Homo sapiens: one gene and its partner. The protein of the gene in region 2 binds, or shares a complex with, the protein of the main gene of each other region. Each region holds a gene or a part of one and is shown on either strand. Other genes may lie near its edges.

Region 1 (3,749 bases), on a different chromosome or scaffold from region 2:
TTTATTTGTTTTGTTTTGAGACGGAGTCTCGCTCTGTCGCCCAGGCTGGAGTGCACTGGCAACATCTAGGATCACTGCAAGCTCCGCCTCCCAGTTCACGCCATTCTCCTGCCTCAGCCTCCCGAGTACTGGGACTACAGGCGCCCGCCACCATGCCCGGCTAATTTTTTGTATTTTTAGTAGAGACGGGGTTTCACCGTGTTAGCCAGGATGGTCTCGATCTCCTGACCTCGTGATCCGCCTGCCTTGGCCTCCCAATGTGCTGGGATTACAGGCGTGAGCCACCACACCCAGCCGAAAAAGGTGTTTTTTTAACCTTTGGGAGCCATCGACTCTTTGAGCATCTGCTCATCTGTGACCTGTGCAAATGCCATTTGTAGATGCGTCCAGAGTGCCCTCCCCACCATCTGCAAGCACCCTAGGGTGGTGGTGGCCCTACGGTCTCATCCAAAGCCATACATCCAAGACCAAGTGCTCTGGGCCCCCAGCCTCGTCCCCCTGCCCACAGTCACTCTGCACTGGCCTCATGCACTGTGTCCCTCCACAGCCCTTAACTGCACCCGCCCCACCTCTGAGGCCGATGTCACTGCTAGAGAAACCCTCCTCGGGTGCCCTGCCTGGAGCTGCTGCCCTGCAGTGGATCAGGCTGTGTGACCTGCAGCCTGCGGAAAGCCAAGGGGGCAGTTAGACCCCACCCTGCTCTGCCAATTTGAGCTCCGGGTCACAGACTCTGGCTCTGGCAGCACCCTCTGGGGTGCCCCATTGTGGCCCTAAGGCCTCCTATCTGTTTCCTCCTGAACTGACAGCTCTGAGACGGCCGAGTGGGGTCTGCCCTGGTTACCCCTGAGTCCCCAGCTCCCAGCACAGGGCCTGGTGATATATCCATGGCAAGGCACCCCATTTCCCTCACTTCTGTCCCCAGCCACCACCCAGCCCACTCACCTCTCCCACTCCTCCTCGGCCTCCTCGGCAGTGAGCGTGCGATGCCGGGCCAGCGGTGTGAAATTGTACCAGTTGTGCACGGGGAAGGCCTCGAAGGCCCCGTCGGGGCACTGGGTGAAGATGTAGTAGGACGTGTTCTCTGTTACGCCTCCCTTCTTGATGCCCTTGAACCTGCAGGGAGCCACGGTCATGGCCTGGCCCATAGGGACCAGCCCCAGCCCCCCCGTGTCCCCCCGGGGCCTGCCTCCTTTATGGCACTTGCCATAGGAGGAAGACCAAGAAATGCCCATGAGGCCTGGGCAGGCCCTTCAACCACCTGGGCCTCGTCAATTTCCACATCTGGGGAACAGGGCCGGCGCACCTACCCTGCAAAGTGCTGGGCGTGTGCACATCGGGATCATTTCTGGAAAGACTGTGTGAGATTATCTCAGGAGAGCCCAACCCTGCAGTCAAACTGTCTACATTTGCCTCCAGCTCTGCTATCTGTGGGCCACACCCGGGAAACTGAGGAGCCAAGTGAGAAGATGGGGCGGGAAGGCATGGCCAAATTTTTTTTTTTGAGATGGAGTCTCGCTCTGGCACCCAGGCTGGAGTGCAGTGGCACCATCTCAGCTCACTGCAACCTCCACCTCCCGGGTTCAAGCAATTCTCATGCCTCAGCCTCCCGAGTAGCTGGGATTACAGGTGTCTGCCACCACACCCAGCTAATTTTTGTAGTTTTAGTAGAGACAGGGTTTCACCATGTTGGCCAGGCTAGTTTCGAACCCCTGACCCCACGTAATCCGCCCGCCTCTGCCTCCCAAAGGGCTAGGATTACAGGCGTGAGCCACCGCGCCCAGCCATGGCATGGCCAAATCTGAAGTGGACACCTGGCCCGGGCCACCATTTCCTCAAGCCTAAACAACTGCCCAGCCTCCTTGAGGCCTCTACCTCATTCTTTTCTACCCCAAAGTTCCGGACAGTCTGGGTGAGTGCCTCTTCCCTGCCTACAGCTTTCCAAGGCTCCGCTGGACCCAGCACATCCTGGCACCCACTGCCCTGTGTGAGCTGCCTGTGTCTGTCACTATCACCCAACTGCTGTGCCTGGAGCACCCTTCATCAACCTAACCTGGACCCCTCCTGTTCTGCCCTCAGTCTGCCCCCTCTGAGAGGTCATCTCAAGTGTCATGAGCTCCCAGGGCTGGCCACCTAAGCTTCCTGCATTGTGGCACTCAGAGCTGCCTCAGAGCCAGGCACAAGCACCAACTCAGTGAACTGTCTTCAAAAACACAACCCCAGGGCCTGGGCAGTGGCTCATACCTATAATCCCAGCACTTTGGGAGACCAAGGTAGGAGGATCACTTGACCCCAGGAGTTCAAGACCAGCTTGAGCAACGCAGCAAGACCCCATCTCTACCAAAAATACAAAAATTAGCCAGGCATGGTGGGGCGTGCCTATAGTCCCAGCTACTCAGGATGCTGAGGTGGGAAGATCTCGAGCCCAGGAGTTGGAGCCTGCAGTGAGCTACGATCGCACCACTGCACTCCAGCCTGGGCAACGGAGTGAGACCCTGTCTCAAAATAAATAAGTAGGCTGGGCACGGTGGCTCACGCCTGTAATCCCAGCACTACGGGAGGCCGAGGCGGGAGGATCGCCAAGTTCGAGACCAGCCTGACCAATATGGTGAAACCCTGTCTCTACTAAAAATACAAAAATTAGCTGGGCGTGGTGGTGGCAGGCACCTGTAATCCCAGCTACTCAGGAGGCTCAGGCAGGAGAATAACTTGAACCTGGGAGGTGTGGGTTGCAGTGAGCCAAGATCGTGCTACTGCACTCCAGCCTGGGCGACAGAGCAAGACTCTGTCTCAAAAAAATACAAGTAAGTAAAATAAGATAACATAAATAAATAAATAAATAAATAAATAATAAAATCCTACAGGGATGGAAGTGCCAGCACTTCCACTGCAGCAGTGGGAATCTGAGGTTCAGAGAGGGTACCCCACAAAGTATGTAAGTTGAGGCCTGGGGATGTGGACTGGTCACTAAGCCGGCACCGCCACCGCCCCACCACTTACTTCCTGCCTGATTTGCCGTTGACCCGGAGCAGCCAGGGCTGGTCCTCGGGCCGGAACTCCTTGAGGACGATGCCGTACTTCTTCCTCCGAGCCTCCTCCCGAAGCTTGCGGTTGAACTCACTGCCCGCGCCCGATTCGGGCATCTCCTCCTCTTGGTAGATTTTCTTGTTGCTCAAGTCCCGCTCCAGCCGAGCCTAGGGGAGCAGGAAGCAAAGCCTCTCAGGGTCCCTGGCTTTGCTTGCGCAGTGCCCCCCTCCAGGAACGCCCTTCCTTGCCCTAGGCCAAGCTCTAGATTCTCAAAACCAACTTACCACTTGGCAACAAGGGAGGAGAACGGTAGCCTTTGACAAATCTGGGTAAAGGGAATTTGGGCGAGCCTTGCGCTCTATTTTTGCAACTTAAAAGCTTGAAATTATTTCCAAATTAAAATTAAAGAGAAAAAGACCACCTGGTGACCATCAAGCAGGCCATCGGAGGCAAAATTCCTTATCTGAGGAATGTAGAAGTAATTAATTAGACTTCCCTATTATCTACAGCAGGCATCTGGTTCCAGGATTCTTTTCAAAAAATGTCTAAGTACCTAGAATTTCCACACATCTCTCCAGAATGCATGCATATCGAAACTCATTGTGCTGTGGCTCACACCTGTAATCCCAGAACTTTGGGAGGCCAAGGCAGAAGGATCACTTGAGCTCAGGAGTTTAAGACCAGCCTGGCATCAGAATGGCTTGAACCTGGGAGGCGGAGGTTGC
Region 2 (3,749 bases):
TAGCCACATTTCAAGTGTGTTCAGTAGCCACATGTGGCTACTGGTTACCATAAAGGATAGCACAGGGGGATAGGACATTTCTGTCATTGCAGAGCATTCTATGGGGCACACTAATATAGGCTAAAAGTGGCCCAGTAGAAAGAAGAATTCATAAGTTATTTTTAAAACAAATAGACTGCTTATTTGCAAGTTAAACAGTCTTTCAGCACTGAAGAAAGATACTGCATTAGCACTTGATAGGATGCTGAGATGATTAAAGATGTAGTCCCAGCCGGGCGCGGTGGCTCACGCCTGGAATCCGAGCACTGTGGGAGGCCAAGGTGGGCGGATCACCTGAGGTCAGGAGTTCGAGAGCAGCCTGGCCAACATGGTGAAACCCCGTCTCTACTAAAAATACAAAAATTAGCCGGGTGTGGTGGCGCGCGCCTATAATCCCAGCTACTCGGGAGGCTGAGGCAAGAGAATCGCTTGAACCTGGGAGGCGGAGGTTGCACTGAGCCAAGATCGTGCCACTAATCCAGCCTGGGTGACAGAGTGAGACTCTGTTACCAAAAATAATTAAAAAAAAAAAAAAAGACATAATCCCCAGTCCTCCAGGTGTTTTCTGGTGGGGGAGATAGACCTGTGCACAGGTACCCACAACCCAAGGCAGATGCGAGTGGTGCTTTATGAAAGGTACAAAGAGAGTTATTGCAGAGGTGACTGGGAAAGCCTTGTGAAGGGATTAGAATTCTAGTGGGGACAGGTAAAGAGAGTTGGTTTTGTGGGTACTCCAGGTGCCAGAAACAGCCCAAGGAAAGGTCCAGGTGGAGGCAGGCAGTTGTGGATTTGTGATGAGGGATCATAAGCAGCTTGGGGCATAAGGCTGGAGAAGATGACACTGGTCCTGTGAGTGACAGGTTCAGAAGATTAGAGTTCATTTGGTGGGCAGTGTGCAGCACTTAAAGGTTTTGAGGCCAACATCCAGCATCCAGGCCACTCATAAATCCAAGTGTCCTGTTTTTCTTTTCTTTCTTTCTTTCTTTTTTTTTTTTTTTTGAGATGGAGTTTTGCTCTTGTTGCCCAGGCTGGAGTGCAATGGCATGATCTTGGCTGATTGCAACCTCTGCCTCCTGGGTTCAAGGAATTCTCCAGCCTCAGCCTCCTGAGTAGCTGGGATTACAGGCACACGCCACCATGCCTGGCTAATATTTTGTATTTTTAGTAGAGACGGTGTTTCACCATGTTGGTCGGGCTGGTCTTGAACTCGTGACCTCAGGTGATTCACCTGCCTTGGCCTCCCGAAGTGCTGGGATTACAGGCGTGAGCCACTGTGCCCAGCCAAGTGTCCTGTTTTTCTTGGGGAGCAAAGCTTGATCCAGCTCATTCCAGTCTTTAGTGCTCTTTCCACTTAAGGGCTATGACACCATCTGGTGGCTCCTTGCCTGCTGTAAGCTCTTGTACAGCCATAATGGGACTCTGCACTTGGTAGGTGCAGGTGGAGTCTCACTCTGTCACCTAGGCTGGAGTGCAGTGGTGCCATCTCGGCTCACTGCAACCTTCACCTCCTGGTTCAAGCGATTCTCATGCCTCAGCCTCTCGAGTATCTGGGACTACAGGCATGTGCCACCACGGCCGGCTAATTTTTTGTATTTTTAGTAGAGACGGGGTTTCACCATGTTGGCCAGGCTGGTCTCAAACTCCTGACCTCAGGTGATTCACCTGTCTCAGCCTCCCAAAGTGCTGTGATTAGAGGCGTGAGCCACTGCACCTGGCCAGAACAACTGTTTGTTGGGTAGGTTTTGGATGGGGTTTCAGTCTGGTTCATTAGCACCACCTGGTGGCTGATGATGTTTGTCACATCTACTTCTTAACTGGATGGTTGATGTGTTTCTCTGTAGAAGCCATGGTGCAAGAAAAATTAAATTACTTAAGGACACATTCTTGCACATTCCATGTGCATAATAGGTGCGGAATGAGTGAATGCCCTTGAATTATTTATATTTTGAAAGAAAGCAGGCACATGCAGATCAGGTATTTTGCCACATTCTTTAAAGCTTTATATTTTGGGAAAGTTTAAATACTTATTAAGAGAGGATATAGGGAAAGTTAAATACTTCATCTCTGCCCTTGGGAAATTTTCAGGCTTTTGGGAGTAATATAAATCGAAATATTTAGTAATAAAATTAGTAAGCTGGTAGCTCTCAGACTAGCTGATTATCAGAATCATCTGGGCAGTTTTGCAAATGCAGGCTCTCAGGCCGCTTCACTAGAGATTCTATTCCGGGGGTCTGGGGAAGGACCCAGGAACCTGTATTTTTTAGCATGCTCTCCTGTTAATTCTGGATTTGTTGGTGTGAACCTGAGCTGGAATCATCAGGGGTGGCTTCCTAGAGGAGATGGGCCTAGAATTGGCATCCCTTTGCTTGGTGGTAGAGTCCCCACTGTGGGCCAAGTGTTATGCTGGGGGCTGGGCCTCCGTGGTGAATCACATGTGGTTCTGGGCCACTAGGAGCTCATGGTCTAATGTGGAAAGTTTCCAAACAAGTAGTTACAGTTCAATGAGATTGGTGCCAAGAAAAGTATATGCAAAATGAGTCCAGGTACTGAAGAGTCAGCACACGATTTCCAGGGTGGAGACATCTGAACCTCTCGCAGGTTTTTAGGGAGAGGAAGAGCTTGTAAGAGCACACAAAAGGGAAACAACATGGCGCATCTAGGGAACCAGAAATAGTTTGGTATGGCTGGAATGTGGAGTAAATACAGGAAAGTAGCACGGGACTGTGCTAGGAAGGCAAACAGGGACCAGACTGCACTCTGGCCTGATAGCCAAGGGGAGTCATGACAGTGTTGTAAGCAGGTGAGCCCCCTGACTGCTGGCCTCAGGTGAAGGGTGGGGAGGGCTGGGCAGGAAGGGCAGGGCCTCTACTGAGGTGTTGTGTCTATAGAGAATGGAAATGATGCCGGGCATGGTGGCTCATGCCTTTCATCCCAGCAATCTGGAAGGCTGAGGCAGGCGGATTGCTTGAGCCCAGGAGTTCGAGACCAGCCTGGGCAACATGGCGAAATGTTAATTTCACCCATCTATACAAAAAATAAAAAAATTAGCATAGCTGGTGGTGTATGCCTGTAGTCCCAAGCAGGAGAATTGCTTGAGCCTGGGAGGTGGAGGTTGCAGTGAGCCACGATCTCCCCATTGCACTCCAGTCTGGGCAATGGGAGTGAAACCTTGTCTCCAAAAAGTAGAGAGAGAAAATAGAAATTGAAATGAGGTGCACTGGGCACTGAGGCAAGGCTCTGGGGTTGGAGCAGTTAGAATGGTGTGCCTTTGCACATGTCTCCCTTTCCACCAGGACATTCTGCTGTGGCCGCTGGACTCCGGAGTCTGTGATAGGCCTCTGCCAGGGAAGATCTCTGGCAGTGCCCCTACACACCACTCCCTACTGTGCCTGCCTACCTAGAAGATGACGTTTCTAGGTGGGGACCAGGATGCCGTTCCACCCTCACTGCCTGTTGGGCCCTTCTCCCTGGGTTTGTAGTCTCCCTAACACCTGTCCCTATCCCTACAGGATGTGTGCCCCTGTGATGGTGGAGCTGGAGGGGGAGACAGATCCTCTGCTCATTGCCATGAAGGAACTCAAGTAAGTCACTCAAATCATGGTTCACTTCTCCAAATCTCTGGGAGGCATCTGTTGGGCTCTCTGTTGCACCCTTTGCTCCCACTTGCCTGGCTGGAGAAGTTGATGCTTATTCCTACAGATCCTTAGGAA

Evidence for each region.
Region 1: POLR2F (region 2) and GTF2F1 share a complex: the UniProt entries of both Homo sapiens proteins name them as parts of the TBP-based Pol II pre-initiation complex.

Annotation. Positions count from the first base shown.
Region 1 is NC_000019.10:6,386,447-6,390,195, forward strand, and holds part of GTF2F1 (general transcription factor IIF subunit 1), read right to left. Parts: intron 3,258-3,749; exon of another isoform or gene 3,192-3,257; coding exon 2,998-3,191; intron 1,114-2,997; coding exon 943-1,113; intron 1-942. UniProt on the Homo sapiens protein: TFIIF is a general transcription initiation factor that binds to RNA polymerase II and helps to recruit it to the initiation complex in collaboration with TFIIB. It promotes transcription elongation.
Region 2 is NC_000022.11:37,963,551-37,967,299, forward strand, and holds part of POLR2F (DNA-directed RNA polymerases I, II, and III subunit RPABC2), read left to right. Parts: intron 1-3,548; coding exon 3,549-3,620; intron 3,621-3,749. UniProt on the Homo sapiens protein: DNA-dependent RNA polymerase catalyzes the transcription of DNA into RNA using the four ribonucleoside triphosphates as substrates.